Linked DNA regions of Homo sapiens: region 2 is linked to region 1. Evidence: fine-mapped QTL for protein levels in blood plasma. A gene starts in region 1. The other region holds a variant in brackets. All regions are shown on one strand. Distances are from middle to middle.

What was found. A credible set is the group of variants that fine-mapping cannot tell apart. PIP is the posterior inclusion probability: the model's chance that the variant is causal. The UK Biobank Pharma Proteomics Project read protein levels with antibody pairs (Olink). The fine-mapping took linkage between variants from a reference panel, not from the people measured, so its PIPs are less certain.
Region 2: its variant is the best candidate, but not a certain one, in a credible set for the plasma level of the MINK1 protein (UK Biobank, PIP 0.68).

The regions. Positions count from the first base shown.
Region 1 is chr17:4,829,204-4,837,529 of GRCh38, reverse strand. It overlaps MINK1 (misshapen like kinase 1), which reads right to left and starts at 4,190. Exons shown (of 32, transcript NM_153827.5): 1 at 3,890-4,190. The coding sequence starts at 3,946. RefSeq lists silencers at 3,640-3,889, 3,900-4,369 and an enhancer at 4,347-5,133.
Region 2 is chr17:4,870,924-4,879,249 of GRCh38, reverse strand. It overlaps MINK1 (misshapen like kinase 1), which reads right to left. Exons shown (of 32, transcript NM_153827.5): 2 at 868-933. Among named protein-coding and RNA genes, the nearest start is that of C17orf107, 24 kb to the left of the region's middle. The variant A/T (reference allele first, on the strand shown) is at 4,095.

The DNA of each region.
Region 1 (8,326 bases):
CTTTACTTCAAGGGCATCGCTCAGCTGGAGGCTTCCAGAACTGTTTACCCCAGACAAGGTCTGATTCTAAAAACATCCCAGAAAAAATATATTCTTAATTGTGCATAAATAAAAGAGGGGCAAAATGAAGCCTAAGAAGCCTGGGGTTTATTGAATACTTTCTCTAAGCAAGCACTGCACTGTGTTGTAAGTGGCACGTGTTGTAAGAGGCACTTCTGCAACAAACGTTTGAGCCCCCATTATGTGCAAAACATGCTTACAGGCACTGGGGATACAAAAATGAACAAAACAGCCAAAATCTTAGCTTTCACCGAACTGTTTGTTGTAGTTGTTGTTGTTGTTTGAAACAGAGTCTGGCTTTGTCGCCCAAGCTGGAGTGCAGTGGTGCAATCTTGGCTCACTGCAGCCTCCACCTCCAAGGTTCAAGTGATTCTCCTGCCTCAGCCTCCCGAGTAACTGGGATTACAGGTGTGCGCCACCATGCCTGGCTAATTTTTTTGTATTTTTTTTTTAGTAGAGATGGGGTTTTACCATGTTGGCCAGGCTGGTCTCGAACTTCTGACCTCTCAGGTGATCCATCTGCCTCGGCCTCCCAAAGTGCTGGGATTACGGTCGTGAGCTACCACACCCGGCCACTGAACTGACATTTTAGTGGGGCTGACAGGAATATATATGTCAGCTGGTGATAAATACTATGAGGAAGGATAAAGCAGACTAAGGGAATGCTATATAAAATTTTGTATAAAAATAAAGCAGAGGAGGGAGTGCTATTTTAGATAAAGTTGTCCTGGAAGGCTTCTCTGATTGCCATTTGATAAAAATAACTGCAAAAAGGGCTATCACATATATGATCACTGTGTGCTGGGAACTGTACTATGTACTTAACGTGCATTTAATCCTCAGCAACTCTGCATTCAGTACTATTACCATGCCCACGATACAGGACTGAATGAAGCTTAGAGAGGGTAAGGCTCTTGGCAGAATCTGCAGTAAGGGGAGCAGGGCCAGGGTTACATTGTAAGGGAAGAAACTAGGACTTGAACTCAGGGCTGCAACTTCAAACCACATGCTTTTCCTCACCACGCTGCAGCCAGGCTGGTGGAGAAAAGGAACCTCAAAGAGGTCAAGTGTGGCTGTGGCTACAAAGTAGCAGGTCCATCTGGCCTCCCCACACATGGCTAAGAGATTAACGCAATTCAATCTTCCCTAATATCAGACGATTACCCTCATCACCAGCTGAAAACCAAGCCTTATCTTGAAACAAGAGGAGAAATACACCTTGGGCTCCTTAAGGCCAGCAAATAAATACTGAATATGTTCCTCTCCCATCCCTCTCCCCAGCCCCCAACACAAGATGGTGTAGTAAAGGGAGACACCATTTCTCACTGGAAAACAGACAGGAATAGCACAAGAGATGACCACACTAGCTGCTTGACAGTGCCACAGCTCTCTGAGGTGGAGTCAGGGGGACAGGCACTGAGAAAAGGTCTGCAGCAGGGAGAAGGTAGGCCCTGGCTAGCCCCATGTCAAAGGAGGTACAGCCCTCCCTCAAGCCCTTGCATTTTAGGGTGGAAAGGGGGAAGCAGAATGCTTTCTTAAGCAGCTTAAGGCAGGCCAGACAGAAGCACTGGGAGCAGGTCACCCGGTCTCCTGAGGGGAGAGGAGAGTAAGGCTGGAGGCAACTGAGGAAGGCTAACATTGCTTCAAGCCGAGAAGTCCAGAAGGGAAATACCACATCTAAGGTCAGAGGGTATTTGTGGAATTGCTGGAAATCCCAGGTTGAGGGTCCAGGCCAAACTACCAAAAGAGGCTAAAAGAGAAACCCAAGCAGAGTCCCACAAGGTTCAAAGCAAAGGTTGTGGTTTGGACCCGCCCCGTTTTTTTGTTTTGTTTTGTTTTGTTTAAGACAAGGTCTCGCTTTGTCGCCCAAGCTGGAGTGCAGTGGTGCAATCTTGGCTCACTGCAACCTCCACCTCCCCAGTTCAAGCAGTTCTCCTGCCTCAGCCTCCTGAGTAGCTGGGATCACAGGTGTGTGCCACCACGTGTGGCTAATTTTTGTATTTTTAGTAAGGATGGGGTTTCACAGTGTTGGCCAGGCTGGTCCCGAACTCCTGACCTCAGGTGATGCCCCACCTCGGCCTCCCAAAGTGCTGGGATTACAGGTGTGAGCACCTCGCCCGGCCTGACCCACCCATTTTTTATTGTATTTTAGTCACCCCAGCCACAGGAACCTGTAGCCAGTTAATCAATAACCAAGGTAGGAAGGAAAGGTGGAAGTTCATCCCAGAATGGAGCACATTAAGGGACTTTTACTCAGAATCTGGATTTCCATCTTATATCCCGACTTGGGCATCCCAGTTTAAACCCTGGCCAAGCTGACCTTAAGAATCTCCCTCCTAAAGCCTTCAGACCCTCTCCTCATCAACACACACACATGTGCCTGCGCACACAGAGAAATTCAGCGTTCAGTCCCTCTCCCCAGAAATTTATCACGTTATCTCCAGCAAGTCAGGTCTCATAGCCCAACATTGCACCAAACAAATTATGACCTGAAAATGGGAAGAAAAAAAACTGTGTCACCTAGAGAAACCCAATTAACAACATGACTCTGCTCTCTTCAATTCCCCTCTCCCCTCCAGCCATATCCGGGGCACCTGTGTGGCTGACCGCCTTTTCCCACTACTGGCCATGTTCCCTGGCTGACTCAAAAGCCAGAAGACAGTCTGAGCAGGGGCCTCCAGAGAAGCGAACCTAGAGATGGGAAGTCCTGCTCTCCCCACACCTTGGCCTGGTGAGAGCGCTGGAAGGGCACAGGATCAAAACACCACCTGGCTGATAGTCTGGAGTGTTCACCTTGAAATCACTAAGTTGCCCCTTAAGCCAAAGCTCCCTGCCGAAGAAAAACATAAATGCTACAGAAAGCTCTTCCACCAGAGTGTGTAAGTGCCCCACAAGGGACAATGAACGGGTATTTCCAAGAAATTCCTGCAGCATTTGCTTCCTCTCAACCCCTTTCCTTATTAGCCCCTACCTTGAGAGGTCTCCATTGCTTCCAGCCTTTAGCTAACATAAACACCCACTGCCTTTCCAAACCTTCAGCCTGACCACATGTAGCATGTGTCGTGTGTGCGCGTGTGTGTGTGTGTAAACATCCTCTTCCCAGCCCGTGCTACAGTTTCCAAAGAGAAGAAATGCCTCCCCTCCTCCCCGAGGGCTCCCAGCCCCACGCTGCTGCAGAGTTGGTCATGTAATATTCAGGGACCCTGAGACCGGAAATGCCTGGTTCTGAACTGCTGCACTTGAAACAGGAGAGAAGGGATAGGGAAAACTGAACATGGGATTGAGGGTGACGGCACGAGGGGTGGGGTAGCTGAAATTCCGACCAGGGAAAGGATGCAATTCAAGGGTGGGCGAGGCAGAGAAAGAGGGATGAGAGAGAGGCTGTCGAGACAGTTGCAAAGTCAAAATTCCAGGAGCTGAGGAAGAGGAGGGGAAGGAAGAAGATAGAAGTAAGGGCAAAGGTGGAAAAGGGCCGAAAGGAGGTAAGGAACCACAATAAAGGTTCTCCAGGTGATGGGGGAGGCTAAGTTTAGGCGAACCAGTGGGTCCCGAACCCCAGAGTAAAGGTAGGGTGGCACGGAAGTGTGGGGGCGGGGCACCACAGGGTGGGGACCGAACTGGCTCCCAGCATCTGCAGCCAGTGGAGAGAGAAGGGAGCAGAGGGCGGGGGCCCAGCCGCGGCGGGAGTCCGGGAAAGGGGCACGGGTCGCCAAGGGGACCCAAGCTGGTGGAGGGGGCGCCCGGGAGCACGTGAGGCGTGCAGCCACCCCGCTCCCTCCCCTGCGGCGGGGACAGGAACCAGGGCGAGGCTGGGGGACGGCGCGCTCACCCGCAGGGCGGACAGGTCGATGTCGTCCAGGCTGCGGGCGGGGGCTGGGTCGCCCATGGCCTCCGTGGGGAACGGGGCACCGGGGCCGCTCACGCTCCGGCTCGGTTACTCCACTGCCGCCGTCGCCGCTTCTCCCCCATCGGAGAACCCCGGGGGCGGACTCCACCGCGCCTCCCCCGGAGACCGGGGAGGGGGAGGGCCGGCGCGAGGACCGACCCACCGACTGACAGGCGCTATCTCCCCGGAGCCAGCCACCCGAGCCTACCACCTCTCCTGCGCAGGCGCGGAGCGACCGCGCACTGGGAGGGTGGAAGCGCGAGCGTGACGCGAGCGCGCCGGGGCCCCCTCCCCCTAGGCGCCGACACCTGCGCGCAGGCGCAGGCGAGCAGGCGAAAGGCGCGCGCGAGGACGGAGCGACCGCGCGAGCCTGGCGTGAAAGAAGTGGGCGGCGGCCGAGGCGGCCGCGGAGCGCGCCCACCAGCTGGTGCGCGTGCGCACACGCGTTTCCTTTTCTTTCCCTATTTTTTTTGCCCTTTCTCTCCCTTATTTCCTTCTCAGATCTCCTTTGACGCCTTTCCTTCCCTTTCCCTCCTTCTTTCGTGTGCCCAGCTGCCAATCAAGCCACCCACCTTTCCATTTGCGGGGGAAGGGGGCGGTACCCAACCCCCTCTATTACTAGGGGGTTGTTATGGTAACTCCCCACGCGAGGGCTGGGTGGCCTCTAGATAGGACGGGCTGTCCACCCACCCAATTGCTATGGCAACAGTGGAGCCGCTGAGGGAGGGGCCACTCCGTGAGAACTTGGCTGGAGAAACCACGTGGGAGTTGGGGGGCAGAGGAGGGGCACCGGCTGCCTCAGGAATGCCCTTTCCACCCTCACCTAGCAGGTTGGGGAAGCATCGAGGTGCTCTCAGATCTCAGGATAAGGAATCCTACCGCAGACGTGTATCTCTGCACCTCTTTTAACAAAGTGTTCTGCACAAAGGAACTGTTTCCACAATTATTCATTGATCACTGGAGTCGCGCGTGGAGGAAGGGGTGGCGAAGGGGAAGAGAGGGAATCTGCGTTCAGTCCCTTAAAATATAGCTTGGGTCACCTTAGATCTAGTCATGTTGGCATAGCGCCTACAGCCATTAGCCTCAGTGGAGGCTGGGTAATGCTATCTAAGAACCACGAGTCATGTTCTACCACTGAAATGCTGTGTGACCTTGAGCAAGTTGCTTTGCTTCTCTGAGGTTTTCTTTCACTGTGAAATTGAGGGGGGAGGCTGTATGATCCTCAAGAGCTCTTCTAGCACCAACACTGCCTCTGAAAGACTCCACCACCAGCCTTAATATAAACATCATTTAAGAGAGTTTAATTTAGAAGTCCTTGAAAAATAGCTGAACACATTCCTTTCTGGACCGTTTTTAGCATTTGGGTGCACAGCCAGTCGGCCCCCTTCCCTAACCCCTAGCCCATTTTCCTTGCCACTGCCCTTATTCAAGCCGCTATCCCCATTCATCTCCTATTTGGCCTTCCGGCCTGACTCCTTCAAGTCAATTCTATTTTTTTTTTTTTTTTTTTTTTTTTGAGACAGAGTCTCACTCTGTCGCCCAGGCTGGAGTGCAGTGGTGCGATCTTAGCTCACTGCAAGCTCCGCTTTCCGGGTTCATGCCATTCTCCTGCCTCAGCCTCCTGAGTAGCTGGGACTACAGGCGCCCGCCACCTCGCCCGGCTAATTTTTTGTATTTTTAGTGGAGACGGGGTTTCACCATGTTAGCCAGGATGGTCTCGATCTCATGACCTCGTGATCCGCCCGCCTCGGCCTCCCAAAGTGCTGGGATTACAGGCGTCAGCCACTGTGCCCAGCCTCTATTTTTTTTTTTTTAAAGACAAAGTCTCGCTCTGTCACCCAGGCTGGAGTACAATGGTATGATCTCTGCTCACTGCAACCTCAAGCTTCTGGGCTCAAGCTATCCTCCAACCTCAGCCTCCCAAGTAGCCAGGACTACAGGCAGCGCATGCCACTACACCTGGCTGATTTTTATATGTTTTGTAGAGATGGGGCTTTGCCATGTCGCCCAATCTGGTCTCAAACCCCTGGCCTCAAGTGATCTGCCTGCCTCGGCCTCCCAAAATGCGGAGATTACAGGATCCCTTGAGGACAGGAGTTGGAGGCCAGCCTGGCCAACATGGTGGGGTTTTTTGTTTGTTTTTTTTTTTTTTTTTTTTTTTTTAGACAGTTTTAGTTTAGTTTAGTTTTTTTGTGAATTTGTGAATTTGTTTTTATTGGGGAACAGGACACAGGGTGGAAAATGTCACCTTGGTGGAGACAGAGTTTTGTTCTCGTTGCCCAGGCTGGAGTGCAGTGGCACAATCTTGGCTCACTGCAACCTCCGCCTCCCGGGTTCAAGCAATTCTCCTATCTCAGCCTCCTGAGTAGCTGGGATTACAGGTGCACGCCACCACGCGTAGCTAATTTTTTGTATTTTCAGTTGAGACGGGGTTTCATCATGTTGGCCAGGCTGGTCTCGAACTCCTGGTCTCAGGTGATCCACCTGCATTGGCCTCCCAAAGTGCAGGGATTACAGGCGTGAACCACCACAACCGGCCAAGCCTCGCAGACATAGTGAAACTCTGTCTCTATTAAAAATACAAAAAATTGGCCGGGCACGGTGGCTTGCGCCTGTAATCCCAGCACTTTTGGGGAGGCCGAGACGAGTGGATCACCTGAGGTCAGGAGTTTGAGACCAGCCTGGACAACATGGTGAAACCATGTCTCTACTAAAAATACAAAAATTAGCCGGGCATGGTGGCAGGCGCCTGTAATCCCAGCTATTCGGGATGCCGATGCAGAAGAATCGCTTGAACCCGGGAGGCAGAGGTTGCAGTGAGCCGAGAACGTGCCACTGCACTCCAGCCTGGGTGACAGAGCAAGACAACGTCTCAAAAAAAAAAAAAAAAAAAAAGCCGGGTGCAGTGGCTCACGCCTGTAATCCCAGCACTTTTGGGGAGGCCGAGACGAGTGGATCACCTGAGGTCAGGAGTTTGAGACCAGCCTGGACAACATGGTGAAACCATGTCTCTACTAAAAATACAAAAATTAGCCGGGCATGGTGGCAGGCGCCTGTAATCCCAGCTATTCGGGATGCCGATGCAGAAGAATCGCTTGAACCCGGGAGGCAGAGGTTGCAGTGAGCCGAGAACGTGCCACTGCACTCCAGCCTGGGTGACAGAGCAAGACAACGTCTCAAAAAAAAAAAAAAAAAAAAAGCCGGGTGCAGTGGCTCACGCCTGTAATCCCAGCACTTTGGGAGGCTGAGGCGGGAGGATCACGAGGTCAGGAGATCAAGACCATCCTGGCTAACACGGTGAAACCCCGTCTCTACCAAAAATACAAAAAAAAATTAGCCGGGCGTGGTGGTGGGCGCCTGTAGTCCCAGCTACTCCGGAGGCTGAGGCAGGAGAATGGTGTGAACCCCGGAGGCGGAGCTTGCAGTGAGCCGAGGTCGTGCCACTGCACTCCAGCCTGGGCGACAGAGCAAGACTCCGTCTCAAAAAAAAAAAAAAAAAAAATTGGCCGGGCGTGGTGGCTCATGCCTGCAATCCCAGCACTTGGGGAAGCCAAGGCAGGCGACTGCACTCCAGCCTGGGCAACAGCGCGAGACTCTGTCTCAAAAAAAAAAAAAAAAAAAAAAGGCCAGGCACGGTGGCTCACGCCTGTAATCCCAGCACTTTGGGAGGCCAAGGCAGGTGGATCACGAGGTCAAGAGATCGAGACCATCCTGACAAACATGGAGAAACCCCGTCTCTACTAAAAATACAAAATTGGCCGTGTGTGGTGGCGCATGCCTGTAATCCCAGCTACTTAGGAGGCCGGGGCAGGAGAATCTCTTGAATCTGGGAGGCGGAGGTTGTGGTGAGCCGAGATCATGCCATTGCACTCCAGCTTGGGCAACAAGAGCGAAACTCCATCTCAAAACAAAACAAAAACCAGATTGGCTGGGCATGGTGGCTCACACCTGTAATCCCCGCACTTTGGGAGGCTGAGGCAGGTGGATCACCTGAGATTGGGAGTTCGAGACCAGCCTGGCCAACATGGTGAAATGCCGTCTCTACTAAAAATACAAAAAATTAGCCGGGCGTGGTGGGGTGTGCCTATAATCCCAGCTACTTGGGAGGCTGAGGCAAGAGGATTGCTTGAACCCAGGAGGCAGAGGTTGCAGTGAGCTGAGATTGCACCACTGCACTCCCGCCTGGGTGACAGCGTGAGACTCTGTCTCATAAAAAAAAAAAAAAAAAAAAAAAAAAAAAAGGCAAAGTGTGGCATCAAAGACCCTTCAAGATTCTGCTGGCTTTTCTTGCCTTCTTTTTCTTTGTTAACGGTTTGCTTCTTTAGGAGTTGGGGTCTTGCTCTATCACCCAGGCTAGAGTGTAGTGGCACGATCATGGCT
Region 2 (8,326 bases), 42 kb before region 1:
AAGTGTGAGCAGTGGTCAGGCCACCTCACTCCCTGCTGCAGCGGCTCCCACAATCCAAGTGTCAGCAGTGGTCAGGCCACCTCACTCCCTGCTGCAGCGGCTCCTCCCAATCCAAGTGTCAGCAGTGGTCAGGCCACCTCACTCCCTGCTGCAGCGGCTCCCACAATCCAAGTGTGAGCAGTGGTCAGGCCACCTCACTCCCTGCTGCAGCGGCTCCCACAATCCAAGTGTGAGCAGTGGTCAGGCCACCTTACTCCCCGCTGGAGTGGCTCCCCCCATCCAAGTGTGAGCAGTGTGGTCAGGCCACACGAGAGGGCTGGGCTGGCCAACCTAAAAGCTACCATCAGTGGCTGAGAACCTGCCACTTCTGTCAGGGACAGAGGCAGCTCAAAAGCCAAAAGCCTGAGCTCTGGCCCCAGCAGGCCAGCTGTGGGAGCAGAGGCCACATCCCCTCTGCAGAAGGCCACCCATTAGGTCCCACTACCTCAAAGTCCTGGGTCTCTTTGTGGTCTGGGGAGAGGCCAAACCCACATCTCTGGCCTTAGCTCTCTCTGAATCCCAGGAGAGTTCTGACACACAAGGCCGTATGCCCTTCCACCTGCTCTCACTGCTGCAGGCCACCCTGCCTGGCTGCTGGCCTGTTCCCACCATGTCCGGGACTGGCTCTGCACTCAGGTAGAGAGAGGCATCAACAGTACCTCCTTCTGGGTGCTCTTTCCTCTCCCCCACTCTACCTTTCCAGGGCCCTAGACTCTAGCATCTCCCATAGCCCCCTTCAGACCTGCAGACCAGGAATCTACTTCCTTCCACTCCTCCCAAGACTGCCCTGCAGATGTGGAGGTCATACTTCCACACCATTCGTCTCACCTTGTACACCTGTCCGTAGGTTCCATTGCCGACCACCTCCACAAGCTCAAAGATCCCAGCAGGGTCCTAGGGGCAGGAGACAGAAGAATACTGTGTCAAGACTTTAGAAAAGGATTACAGAGCTAGAGGGGGGTAAAGTGGTATCCAGTCAAGATATGGGAGTGAAGACCAGCATATCAGGAGGGCACGTGGCAGGAACCCTGGTGGCTGGCTGCCCTTTTCCTGGATTGGTTCAGAGTGAATGTTCTACGGGAAAAGTTGGAAGAAGTGAGTGGCCGGGCACGGTGGCTCACGCCTGTAATCCCAGCACTTTGGGAGGCCGAGGCAGGTGGATCACGAGGTCAGGAGATCGAGACCATGCTGGCTAACACGGTGAAACCCCGTCTCTACTAAAAATACAAAAAATTAGCTGGGCGTGGTTGCGGGCGCCTGTAGTCCCAGCTACTTGGGAGGCTGAGGCAGGAGAATGGCGTGAACCTGGGAGGCAGAGCTTGCAGTGAGCTGAGATTGCGCCACTGCACTCCAGCCTGGGCGACAGAGTGAGACTCCGTCTCAAAAAAAAAAAAAAAAAAAGAAGTGAGAGAACATGGAAGTCAGAGCGCAGATGGCTTTTCAAAGACATGTTCCCGATTTCAAACCCACCGAGAAACTGCGTCTGTACCCTCATGTGCAAAATGAGGGTGCCCGAGTACCTTCCTCTGGGGTTGGTACTCACATTTTAAGTGAAGAAATGCCCATCAAATGCTTCAGATGGTTCCTGGCATCAGAGCGTGTGCCCAATAAAAGTTAATGACCATTATTATTATCTTACTTCTTAAAAGCAGGGATGAGGAAAGCTAGCAGGGAGCAGGAATTTCAGGGCCACCATCCTTTTGTCCTTCCCTCTTCCCAGTCCCCCTGAGACTGAGGGCTTCCAGGCCAGGGTTTGAGGCAATTGGGGCCAAAGGGACCTGGACGGAGGGAGTCAGCAGGTGATGGTGAGAAAGGGCCTCTGAGAAGGGAGAACTTTCTGTTCCTACTTTTCTGAGCCAAGCAGTGCCAGAAGGAGACAGCCCGAAGGGCTCAAACAAAGCCTCTAAAGAGGCTCGTCCTCCCCCTGGGCCAAGAGCAGGCAGGCCAGGCCTCAGCAACACAGCTGCGGTCGGGAGGCCACCCACACCCTCCTGGCAGAACCTTTTTTTTTTGAGAGAAAGAAATTGGGAGGTGGAGCTGCAAGCTGAAGAGAGATACAGCCCAGTACTGTCCACACTCCTGCACCTCCTGCAGAATGATGGCTCTTTTTTTTTTTTTTCTTTTGAGACTGAGTCTCACTCTGTCACCCAGGCTGGATGCAGTGGTACAATCACAGCTCACTGCAGCCTCAGTCTCCTGGGCTCAAGCAATCCTCCACCTCAGCCTCCTGAACAGCTGGGACCACAGGCATGCACCACCGCTCCTGGCTAGTTTTTTTTATTTTTAGTAGAGACGGGGTGTCACTATGTTGTCCAGACTGTTCTCAAACTTCTGAGTTCAAGCAGTCCTCCTGCCTTGGCCTCCCAAAGTACTGGGATTACAGGTGTGAGCCACCACGCCTGCCTCAGAGCCGACAGTTCTGACAGTCCTGGTGTTTCACTGGGTGGGCCCGTCCCCACCGCTGCAGGGACCGAGCGGAGGCAGAAAGTGAGGATGGCACTTGGGAATAAACTCTCCAGGCAACACGTGGCCTCTGTGCTGATAATCCTAAAAGCATATAATCTAAAACTCCTTTCTCCTTGATTTTGAAAGCTAACATAGGGTTTCTGGGAGGAAAAAAAAAATCCCACGACCAAAAAAGCCCACATCCATGCCAATAAAAGCACTTCATCCACTGAAGTAATAAGCCCAAGGAAGACGACTTGGGCGTGTTGAAGACCAGAGAGACACCAGCCCAAGGCTTTTAAAAAATGTCCTCACTGTGCACTTTTTCCATTTTCTCAAAGAGGAGCTGGAGAGCGGAGACGTGCCCCGGCACCCTGTGCCTGCCCCATCAGAGCATGTATCACGAGGCATTGTGCTCTACATTTACTTGTCTTATTCACTGGAGAAAGGGACTGAGCCCTCCTTGCTCACCAGGTAATGTCTAGGACCTCACTGAGGCCTGGCACGCGGCAGCCTGAGGAAACAGCCCAGCCTGCTCGGGAGGAAGTATTGACAGCTGAAGGGGGTTCCTTCTCTGTGCTCTGAAGGGGACTGGGCTGACCAGACCAAGAACTTTGTGGGTCTACATTCAATTATTTGGCTTCAGTTAAAGTTACGAAAAAAAAAATCTTGGCCGGGCGCGGTGGCTCACGCCTGTAATCCCAGCACTTTGAGAGGCTGAAGCGGGCAGATCAAGGGGTCAGGGTATCGAGACCATCCTGGCTAACATGGTGAAACCCCGTCTCTACTAAAAATACAAAAAATTAGCTGGGCGTGGTGGCGGGCACCTATATTCACAGCTACTCGGGAGGCTGAGGCAGGAGAATTACTTGAACCCAGGAGGTGGAGGTTGCAGTGAGCCGAGATCACACCACTGCACTCCAACCAAAGCGACAGAGCAAGGCTCTGTCTCGGCGGGGGGAAAAAAAACCTAACAAATTTATTCATTTTTTTTGAAATGGAATTTTTCTCTTGTTGCCCAGCTGGAGTGCAATGGCACGATCTTGGCTCACCGCAACCTCCACCTCCTGGGTTCAAATGATTCTCCTGCCTCAGCCTCCCGAGTAGCTGGGACTACAGGCGTGTGCCACCACGCCCAGCTAATTTTGTATTTTTAGTAGAGACGTGGTTTCACCCTGTTGGTCAGACTGGTCTCAAACTCTTGACCTCAGGTGATCCACCCACCTCAGCCTCCCAAGGTGTTGGGATTACAGGTGTGAGCCACTGCGCACGGCCTCATTTTTGTTTTTTTAGAGTCAGATCTCGCTCTGTTGCCCAGGTGGGAGTGCGGTGGCATGATCACAGCTCACTGTAGCCTTGAACTCCTGGGCTCAAGCAATCCTCCCACCTCAGCCTCCCAACACATTAATATTATAGGCATGACCCAGCATGCACAGCTAAAACAATATTTAACGGGTGTAAATCACAGTAGGATCCACAGGAAAGAGAGGTGTTGTCACTGCAGTGCAGGGGGCTAACAAGAGGTCTTTCTGACCCTGAGAGCTGGAAGGAACCTGAAAAAAGTCATCTCATCCGTCTTCAGTTCTAGATTAGAGGCTCAAAGACCATAG[A/T]GTTCCCTACAGAGCTCCCCAACAGAAGAACTCATCCATTCCGGGGCGTCTGAACTGACTGCTGCGAAGTCCTTTCTTGAATCAAACTGTAGCTCTTTCTGAGAAGGAGGGAGACAGGAAAAAGGATCTAGGGTCATAATTTTCTGAACACTCCTAATCTAAGAGGGAAAATACCGTGGGCCTGTTAGAGCCATAATGATCTGTCACCATCAAGTCAAATCACTACAAGTACATTTTAATTTTGTAACCTTGACTCCCAATCTGTCTCCTTCTCGTGTCTGGGCGGCACTGAGGGAGGAAGGAATATTTGAGGTCAGACACCCTGGGTTCAGATATCGACATTTAATGGGTTTCAAGTCGGTTTCCTGAAAACTCCTACTGGAAAGGGTGATTCAGAGAAGCAAGTTGGGGTCCCGCACGTGGCACTCTGGTTGTGGTCTCTCACCCCCTCCCCACCCAGATGCTCCATGTTTCAATAGCAGCACCGCTTTCCCACCACAGTCCAGCCTCTGCCTAATCCTCCTCCTCCTCCTCCCTTTCCTGTATCGCAGCCACCCTGTCCTTTCTCCCTTCAACATGTGCTTGGCTTGTCCACCAACTCAGACCAATCCCTCATGTCCTCCCTCCTGGAACTCTAGCCTCCCCCATGTCTTCCTTCTGCTGCCACTGATTTAACTCTTCCAAAATGGCGCTTTCCTGATTTTACTCTTCTGCCCAGAACTGGTAGTGGGGCTCCCCAATGCTTAGAGAGTCCCAACACCTCAGCCTGACATTTAACGATGCCCCGTTATTATCCAACCACTAAATATCTTCTGAATGAGTGCCTCCATTTGCCTTGCACTGGGCTAAGCCCTAAGCAGGGAAAACCTGTAAGGCAATCGTATCTCATTTCATTCATCCATTACATATTTCCTGAGCACAAACTATGTAATAACTCCCGAATTAGACACAAAAGGGAGCTCACCAATATATGAGAAATATAAAACCTTATAATTTTATAGATTGGCCAAGTACTCAAATATGAAAATGTGGCAGTCTACGATTATATATCATAAACAGCAACCGAAAGCACGAAAGCCGCTGAAATGCTGCTTGGTGTGGTGGAAAGAGCATGGGAGAGGGGTTTTCAACTCTGGCACTAGTCGTGTGCCTCTGTGCAAGTATTTAACTGTTTGAGGCCTCGGTCCTCTCCCACAAGCTAAGAGGGGGTTGGATTGTGTAAAAAGTCCACCTTAGGGTTGGGCGTGATGGCTCATGTCTGTAATCCCTGCACTTTGGGAAGCTGAGAACGCCGGATCATCAGACGTCAGGAGTTCGAGACCAGCCTGGCCAACATTATGAAGTCCTGTCTCTACTAAAAAATACAAAAATCATCTGGATATGGTGGTGGGCACCTGTAAACCCAGCTACTTGGGAGGCTGAGGCAGGAGAATCGCTTGAACTCAGGAGGTGGAGGTTGCAGTGAGCCGAAATTGCGCCACTGCACTCCAGCCTGGGTGAAAGAGTGAGACGCCTTCTCAAAAAAAAAAAAAAAAAAAGAAAAGAAAAAAGAGTGGCGAAGACCATGCTGTGTTGTGGGAGAGCAGGCTGGGTTTGAATGTTGAATTGGGGATGTTAAAGGATACACAGGTACATTCTATTGTCATGCTGTGCTGTGGGAGAACAGGCTGGGTTTGAATGTTGAATTGGGGATGTTAAAGGATACACAGGTACATTCTATTGTCATGCTGTGCTGTGGGAGAACAGGCTGGGTTTGAATGTTGAATTGGGGATGTTAAAGGATACACAGGTACATTCTATTGTCATGCTGTGCTGTGGGAGAACAGGCTGGGTTTGAATGTTGAATTGGGGATGTTAAAGGATACACAGGTACATTCTATTGTGCAGTTAGAAACAAGGATCTGTAAATACAATTTACAGACATTCGTGAGTGTAAGAGTTGGAGATACAAACAAGATATCTAGGGAGAATGTGGATGGCCAAGGGCAACACGTGAGAGCAGCAGAACAGACGCCAGAAGAGGAGATGGTCATGGAGGCTGCAGGGGGATAAGGGGAGTGATGGCCTCGAATGCGGCAGAGCAGCCAGAGGGCACTGAAAAAAATCCCACTGACTTCAGCAGCTCGGAAACCACTGGGAACTGCCGCTGTGTGAGCAGAGGGCAGACAGCGGGGGCTGGAGGAGACAGGGCTGTGCTGAGGAAATGAGGGCAGCACCCTTTCTGGAGAAGTCTAACCTTGAGAGGAAGGGGGAAAATCAGATGACAGCTAGAGCTGGCAGCAAAGTCAGACAATAGGGTTTTCAAAATAGGGAAGATCGTTCATCATCATGGAGGGGAAGAAGCCAAAAAGGGTGGATGTTTGAGGAGTTGATTTTTCTTTTGTTTCTGAGACAGAGTCTCTGTCACCCAGGCTGGAGTGCAGTGCCACGATCCCAGCTCACTGCAACCTCCGCCTCCTGGGTTCAAGCAATTCTCCTGCTTCAGCCTCCTGAGTAGCTGGGATTACAGGCGCGCACCACCAAACTTGGGTAATTTTTTGTATTTTTAGTAGAGACGGGGTTTTACCATGTTGGTCAAACTGGTCTCAAACTCCTGACCTCGTGATCCACCCACCTCGGCCTCCCAAAGTGCTGGGATTACAGGCGTGAGCCACTGCGCTCAGCCAATTTTTGTACTTTTTATGTAGACGGGGTTTCACCGTGTTGCCCAGGCTGGTCTTGAATCCTGAGCTAAAGAGATCCACCTGCCTTGGCCTCCCAAACTGCTGGGATTACAGGGGTGAGGCACCATGCCTGACTCTGTCCATCCTTTTTTTTTTTTTTTTTAAGACTTAGTCTCATTCTGTTGCTCAGGCTGGAGTGCAGTGGTGCAATCTCAGCTCACTGCAACCTCCACCTCCTGGGTTCAAGTGATTCTCTTGCCTCAGTCTCCTGAATAGCTGGGATTACAGCTGCCTGCCACCACACTTGGCTAATTTTTTGTATTTTAGTAGAGACAGGATTTCACCATGTTGTCCAGGCCAGTGTCAAACTCCTGACCTCAAGTGATCCGCCCACCTCGGCCTCCCAAAGTGCGGGATTACAGGAGTGAGCCACTGTACCCAGCCTGTCCATCCTTTTGATTGGAGCCATCCTAGTAGGTGTGAAGTGGTATCTCATTGTGGTTTTGATTTGTATTTCCCTCAGGAGGCTGAGGCAGGAGGATCCTATAAGTCCAGGAGTTTGAGGCTACAGTGAGCTATGGTCATGCCACTGTACTTCAGCCTGGGCAACAGAGTGAGATCACCTCCCTACCCCATCTAGAAAAGGATGGACAATCAAAAGCGTTGCTGAGGGCATGGAGAAACTGAAATTGTCATACACTGCTGCTGGGAATGTAAAATGGTCCAGCCACTTTGGAAAACAGTTTGGCAGTTCCTCAAATGTTAAACAATGAGTTATCATATCACTCAGCCATTCCACTTCTAGGTAGATACTCAAGAAAACTGAGAACATATATCCACACAAAAATATGTAGATGGATGCCCACAGGAGGATTATTAACAACCAAAAAGTAGAAACCACCCAAATATCCATCAACTGATGAACAGATAAATGTGGTATATCTATATAATAGAATGATATTGGCAATAAAAAGAAATGAAGACCAGGTATGGTGGCTCATGTCTATAACCCCAGCACTTTGGGAGGCAGAGGCGGGAGGATCACTTGAGGTCAAGTGGTTTGAGACTGCTTGGCAGGTTTGAGACCAACCTTGGCAAGATAATAAGACCACATCTCTACAAAAAATTTAAAAAATTAGTGAGGCAAGGTGGCATGTACCTGTAGTCCCAGCTACATGGGAGGCTGAGGTGGAAGGATCCCTTGAGCCCAGGAGCGGAAGGCAGTAGTGACCTATGATAGCACCACTGCACCCCAGCCTGGGTGACAGAGTGAGTGAGACCCTGCCTCTAAAAAAAAAAAAAAAAAAAAAATTAAAACAAACAAAACAAAAAAAGGGAATAAACTACTGCTAGATGTTGCAACATGGATGAACCTTGAAGACATTATGCTTATGAAAGAAGCTAGTCACAAAAGGCCACATATTATGTGGCTACATTTATGTGTAACGTCCAGAATAGGCAAGTCTAAAGAGATGAGAAGTAGATTAGTGGTTGCCAGGGGCTGGGAGGAAGGAGAAGATGGGCAATGACTGCTAATGCGTACTGGGTTTCATCTGGGGATAATGAAAA